Homo sapiens: one gene and its partner. The protein of the gene in region 2 purifies or fractionates together with the protein of the main gene of each other region. This does not show direct contact. Each region holds a gene or a part of one and is shown on either strand. Other genes may lie near its edges.

Region 1 (3,898 bases), on a different chromosome or scaffold from region 2:
TAGTGATAGCCCCTGTTATCCTGGAAATTGTTCTCAATGAGGGTGTCTAAGAGTGCCTTATCTTTAAGAAATGTTGTTCCAGTCAATGCTAACTAACTAGGAAAATCCAGACTTGCTTAGCTTAAATAAAGTATTAAAATTCGGCATACCATTTTCTGAAACTATAAAAATTACTCTCCAATATCCTATGACTTAGCAGATAAGTGCATATCCTCTGTAAGCAGAACGCTGAGTTATGGAGTGCCAACTCTAATTCCTTATCTCATCGCAGGAAAAAAACCCCCAAGAAATAGTATCACTATGTGTATGATTTTGGATACATTGCTGACTTTGAAAGACATTCTAATAGATTATCCTCACATATACAGAATATACCTCTTTTAATTTTTGAATGGTTGGAGTAATCTCTTCTTCAAGTATCTGGAAAATAAAGAAAAATCAGTATTTTCGCATGTAAAGTATCATTAAAATTTATTTGAAAGAGAAGTAGCAGGGATGACTATGGAAAACTGAACCAAGGAAAAAAATTTTTCCCTCTTTACAGCAAAAACTCTACATGCAAAATTACATTCTTCTCCGAAAATATTTTATATGAATTAAATTACCGTCTTAATTTCTTTCAGCTTAGCCTCCTTTTTTTCTATAGTTTTCTGTGCAGCTATTTTTTTGTATTCATACATCCTGGTTCCAGCTGCTTCTTCTATCATGGATAAAATCTGGAATGACAATTTTATTAATGTTTAGTATCCAAGACAATGTGTCCAACTGGAATTTACATTAAATATATCATTTTTGCCTTGACCTCACTAAACATCTTACCAAAAGTTGGCCCAAATGAACCATATAGGTTAAATATAGTAATTTCACACAAACCTTTTCCTGTAGGCTTTTTCTGTAGGAATGAATTCTGACATGAAACACCAGCTAAGCAAGACTCCTTTATACAATCAAAATCAATTTTAATATTTGGGCATAGTGCCAAATATTACACAAATATACAACTGTCTTTACTAATCATTCCCAAATAATGTCTCCAAAAATTTTAATAGAATATTTAAAAATTGTCTGAAAGATTAAAGTAATATCTATACCAACTATTTTTAATGTCCATAAATAGTACTCTTACCTCTGGAGGTTTCATATTCAATACTTTTGTAATTCGGCCCTGAAAATAAAATAGCAAACTTACTAAGATAACAAATTACAGAAAATGTTTATCTGTACTGCCATTCATGTTTATCTAGACTGAAGCTGTTGTATCTCAATATACCAATCTTTGGGGGGGTCTTTCCTCTATAATTCTTCTATGATTCTAGAATTTTGGAACTTTGCTATTCACTTTCTCACCAGTGATACAAATTATGGAAGTTATGAAATGATACAAATGAAATAATTCATTAAATGATACAAAGTTAACAAGGATCATGTTTCTGAGACAGTTAACATTAAGTAGAAATATTCAAATTTAAAACAGGTAAATATAAAAAGAAATTTCAGCATAATTAAAAAACTTTTAACATTTCTTTGAATGATAACCCTCCAGGATAATTTCACAAAACAGATGACATACTTCTAGGCCTCAAACAAAATACAATATTTTACATCAATGCCAGAAAACCATTAAATTTATTCATTACCAAAAACAAATAAAGCAAAACACCTGCACACCCAGGTCTCAGAGAATTGTATTACTAGAATGTAGATTCATTTAAAGTAAAGTTTCAACTATGAAGGTGTGTAGTGGAAATATTTTTATTTTGGTCCCACTGAGATGCTCCCATCGACTTTACTATAATTCTCTCAAACGGCAGCTGGATGGGTCAAATGAAGTAATGTAAATGTAAGATAAAATCAGCCTTTACTCCTCATTTGTGTGAGTCTCTAAGAAAATTACTCAAGCTTTTATACTTGAAATATTAAGATGCATTAATCCAATAATTTAAAAGGATATATTATGGCTTTTTTTTTTTTACAGTTAACATGTATTGTTCTTTTAGTGACAAAACAAAAAGTCAACAAAAATTACTTCTAAACATTCTAGAGGAGTCAAAGGTCTATAATCCAGTAGAATATATCAGTGCAAGTAACTAAACCATATTTCTAAACAGATGGCCGGACACAGCACAATAGTAAATAAAAAGTATAAAATCCAAAACATAAAGTACTTCTATTTTAATTGCTTAAAAGTAAAAAATGTCGAAACTATTACGAAAGTGATATAAAGACCTCAAACGAAATACCTGCATGATGAGAAAGTGAGGGTTGTTAACATTAAGGCCAACAGAACAGAAGAGATCCTGTACTCTGGTGTTGTTGGCATTGACTCCATTGATTAAATATTTATTTCTACCACCAATAACCACCTATAAAAGAAAGCAATTTTTTAAATATTAATGTACATGCACACCTTGTGCTAGGATAAACTAAGTATATTAGCTTACGTTTATTTGTTCTGTCTGACTAGCAGTAAACAAAACCAATTCTGCATAAATAGTGGAACAAGTATGACATGGTCAAAAACGCTAACTTGAGTCAGGACAGCTAGTATCTAATGCAAGTACTTTTGGTAACTAGTTATGTAATTACACACAAGCCTCTTACCCTGGCCTGCACCAGACTAGGTCTCCGAGGTAACTTCTAGCTTTATGTTTCCAAGTATATGTAAAACACACTTTCCTAGTTACTTTCTTTCTGTAATTTTTCTAGAGGCTTTCTCTACTTTTCAACAGGAATAGATGTCAGACAAAGTAGCTTAGTATCAATTCTTGACAAGATTCAAAAAGCTATTAATAAAGACATGATTTATGACCATTTAAAAGAAAGGGTAATCATGGAGCTTCAGTATGGTTTCATTAAGTCATCCCAGACACCATACTCTACTATCACACTTAAATTGTCATTTATTGGGTATGATTGTCTCATCTACCAGATTGAAGTCCTTAAAGACAAGCTCTGTTTCTCATTCTTCTAACTGTACATCCCAGTACATTCAAGAACACCCAATATACATCAACTATTTAATAAATATTGAATAAATGTTAGTTCATTTCTTTTCCTGACAGGACTACTAGGTTGGTAGTTCATATATTAATGTATTTGAAGACCCTTCTCTGACAAAAATTTTATAATTTTGGTGAAGATACAAGTTTATGGCCTGAATGAGGACAGGAACAATTAGGTAGATTATTAGTAAGAGACTTAGTGACAGTTCCTAAAGGATAAATATTTGATGGATGCCTAATGACATGGAACAGGATTCTGTCCTAACGTGGCCTACGCTTCTTTTTTTTTTTTTTTTTTCAACCAGAGGCTTCCATTAAAATAGAGGAGAAAATCTGTAAGTGATAAATGATAAGATGGACAGTAAATAGGAGTTGACAACATTTTTAAAAACAAAATCTTGGGCCAGGCGCCGTGGCTCACACCTGTAATCCTAGCACTTTGGGAGGCCAAGGCGGGCAGATCATGAGGTCAGGAGATTGAGACCACCCTGGCCAACATAGCGAAATCCCGTCTCTACTAAAAATACAAAAAACAAAAAAAAATTAGCCGGGTGTGGTGGTGGGCACCTGTAGTCCCAGCTACTCAGGAGGCTGAGGCAGAAGAATCTCTTGAACCCGGGAGATGGAGACCAGCCTGGGTAACAGAGCGAGACTCCGTCTCAGGAAAAAAAAAAAAAAAAAAAAAAACCTTGACAAGCTGAAAACACTGCCTGACTATATTAATAACACACCTAAAAAAAAATTGAGTGGTTTCAAGTAAATCTAATATGAATCCACAATGTATTATGAACACCCCAATGCTCTACTGGGAAAAATAAAAGTAGAATATCTAAAATGAAAGAATAACTCCAACTAGACCAATTTTGGTACACCCAATCTAAGGTGCCATTAAAAGA
Region 2 (3,421 bases):
AAAGTACACTCATGTTTCTAAAAGAGCTAATCAAAGCTTAATTTTATTCTCAAATGATTTTGTCCATATGGAACTTGGAGGTTAAGCGAATAACTGACTGCATGTGCTTCAGTGTGGCTTGTTAGGGGTTCTCAATCCTGGCTGCACATTAGAATCACCTGGGAAACCTTGACAGCTACTCAAGCCTTGCGTTATGCTCAGTTTTGATTTTTTGTTTTTTTAAAAAATTGAATTACAATAGTTGTACATATTTTGGGGGTACATGTGATCTTTTAATACCTGTATGTGGGCTGGGTAGTCCCAGCCACTTGGGAGGCTAAGGCAGGAGAATCACTTGAACCTGGGAGGCGGAGGTTGCAGTGAGCCGAGATCCTGCCATTGCATTCCAGCCTGGGTGACAGAGTGAGACCCTGTCTCAAAAAAACAACAACAAAAAGAAACTGGCTTGGCGTGGTGGCTCATACCTGTTAGCCCAGCACTTTGGGAGGCCGAAGCGGGTGGATTACCTGAGGTTGGGAGCTCAAGACCATTCTGACCAACATGGAGAAACCCCATCTCTACTAAAAATACAAAATTAGCCAAGTGTGTGGCCGGGCGCGGTGGTTCACGCCTGTAACCCCAGCACTTTGGGAGGCCCAGGCGGGCGGATCACGAGGTCAGGAGATCGAGACCATCCTGGTTAACACGGTGAAACCCCGTCTCTACTAATAATACAAAACTTAGCCGGGCGAGGTGGCAGGCGCCTGTAGTCCCAGCTATTTGGGAGGCTGAGGCAGGAGAATGGCGTGAACCCGGGAGGCGGAGCTTGCAGCGAGCCGAGATCGTGCCACTGCCCTCCAGCCTGGGTGACAGAGCGAGACTCCGTCTCAAAAAAAAAAAAAGCCAACTGTGGTGGCGAACACCTGTAATCCTAGCTACTCGGCAGGCTGAGACAGGAGAATCACTTGAACCTGGGAGGCGGAGGTTGCGGTGAGCTGAGATCTCGCCATTGCACTCCAGCCTGGACAACAAGAGTGAAACTCCGGCCGGGCGCGATGGCTCATGCCTGTAATCCCAGCACTTTGGGAGGCCAAGGCAGGAAGATCACGAGGTCAGGAGATCGAGACCACGGTGAATCCCTGTCCGTACTAAAAATACAAAAAATTAGTCGGGCGCAGTGGCGGGCGCCTGTAGTCCCAGCTACTCGGGAGGCTGAGGCAGGAGACTGGCGTGAACCCGGGAGGCGGAGCTTGCAGTGAGCTGAGATCGCGCCACCGCACTCCAGCCTGGGCGACAGAGCGAGGCTCCGTCAAAAAAAAAAAACCTTTATGTGTACAATGTGTAATGATCAAATCGGGGTAATTGGGATATCTCTATGCTCAAACATTTAACTTTCATCCAGTTCTGATTTAATTGGTCAGAGGTCGAGCATTAAAAAGCACCCTAGGTAAATTTTACTGTACTTAGGTTATGCCTTTTTTTTTTTTTAAAGGCAGAGTCTTACTCTGTTGCCCATGCTGGAGTGCAGTGGCGTGATCTCGGCTCACTGCAACCTCCACCTCCTGGGCTTAAGCGATTCTCCTGCGTCAGCAATCCAAGTAGCTGGAATTGCAGGCGCCCGCCACCATGCCCAGCTAATTTTTGTATTTTTAGTAGAGACTGGGTTTCACCGTGTTGGCCAGGCTGGTCTCAAACTACTGACCTCAAGTGATCCACCCGCCTCGGCCTCCCAAAGTGCTGGGATTACAGGCGTGAGCCACCACGCTGGCCCAGTTATACCTTTTTTTTTTTTTTTTGAATTTTTTTTTTATTATTACGCTTTAAGTTCTAGGGTATATATGCACAACGTGCAGGTTTGTTACATAGATATACATGTGCCATGTTGGTTTGCTGCACCCATCAACTCATCATTTACATTAGGTATTTCTCCTGATGCTATCCCTCCCCCAGCCTCCCAGCACACCCAGTTATACCTTAAACTGAACTTAAAACAGCTCCCAGGTGATTCTAATGTGCAGCCACTATTAAGAGTCATTGATAAATGAGATTAAAGACCTTAATTTACGGCAAAGGTCCTGACACCTTTTTTTTTTTTTTTCCCAGATATGGCGTCTTACTCTGTGACCCAGACTGGAGTGCAGTGCCACAGTCTCGGTTCACTGCAAGCTCTGCCTCCCAGGCTCAAGTGACCCTCCCACCTCAGCCTTCTGAGTAGCTGGGACTACAAGGGCACACCACCAAGCCCAGATAGTTTTTATATTTTTTGTAGAAACGGGGTTTCATCATGTTGTCCAGGCAGGTCTTGAACTTCTGGGGTCAAGTGATTTGCCCACCTCAGTCCCCCAAAGTGCTGGAATTACAGGTGTGAGCCACTATGCCCGGCCCTAACATTTATTATTAAAGTGATAAGCTTTGTCTTCAATTTCTGTTGACTCACATTAGAGTAAAAATGAACATGGTATGAATCAGTGACCCTGCAATAGTATTTTTATTGGAGAACCTAGTCTAGCTTGGTTCAGAAATTGTCATTGTTTACCAGATATGCACTCCTTATAAAATTCTATGCTAGACATTCTATATACATTATTCTTTATTCATCATAACTCTGAAAAATGGTATTAGCACTAATCTGTAGAATAGGAAACTGAGGCTCTGAACTTCAGTAACATTACTAAAGTTACACAGCAAGCACAACAGAGCTTGGTTTCAAATAGAGAAGTAACTGTCATGGTTCTTTTTCCACTGTACTTCATTTCTTTATAGCTATGTTTTTGTTTTTGTTTTAGTGAAAGCAAGTTTATTAGGAAAGTAAAGAAATAAATATTGGCTACTTTATAGGCAGAACAGCCTGTAGCTGTGTTATTTTGCCTTTCTTCTTTATTTTTATTTTATTTTATTTTATGTTTTTGAGACGGAGTTTCGCTCTTGTTGCCCAGGCGGAGTACAATGGCGCAATCTCAGCTCACCGCAACCTCCACCTCTCGGGTGCAAGTGATTCTCCTGCCTCAGCCTCCCAAGTAGCTGGGATTACAGGCATGCACCACCATGCCTGGCTAATTTTGTATTTTTAGTAGAGATAGGGTTTCTCCATGTTGCTCAGTCTGGTCTCAAACTCTCGACCTCAGGTGGTCCGCCTATCTCAGCCTCCCAAAGTGCTGGGGTTACAGATGTGAGCCACTGGCCTATTTTGCCTTTCTTCTATTCCCTTGTTTTTGCTATTGGCTTTACAGAAATATCTTACCATCATGGCTGTGGAAATCAGTTTAGCATTTCCTCAAAAAGTTAAAACAGGCCAGGCTCAGTGGCTTACACTTGTAAATCCAGCACTTTGGGAGGCCGAGGCGAGCGGATCAACTTGAGGCCAGGAGTTCGAGACAAGCCTGGCCAACATGGTGAAACCCTGTCTCTACTAAAAATACAAAAATTAGGTGGGCTTGGTTGC

The links. The genes of interacting proteins can lie anywhere in the genome.
Region 1: the proteins of SERF1A (region 2) and SMC2 purify together in Homo sapiens (affinity purification with mass spectrometry, with the first as the bait; one large-scale study listed by BioGRID). This does not show direct contact.

The regions. Positions count from the first base shown.
Region 1 is NC_000009.12:104,096,911-104,100,808, reverse strand, and holds part of SMC2 (structural maintenance of chromosomes protein 2), read right to left. Parts: intron 2,364-3,898; coding exon 2,241-2,363; intron 1,166-2,240; coding exon 1,127-1,165; intron 717-1,126; coding exon 606-716; intron 421-605; coding exon 376-420; intron 1-375. UniProt on the Homo sapiens protein: Central component of the condensin complex, a complex required for conversion of interphase chromatin into mitotic-like condense chromosomes.
Region 2 is NC_000005.10:70,903,103-70,906,523, forward strand, and holds part of SERF1A (small EDRK-rich factor 1), read left to right. Parts: intron 1-3,421. UniProt on the Homo sapiens protein: Positive regulator of amyloid protein aggregation and proteotoxicity. Induces conformational changes in amyloid proteins, such as APP, HTT, and SNCA, driving them into compact formations preceding the formation of aggregates.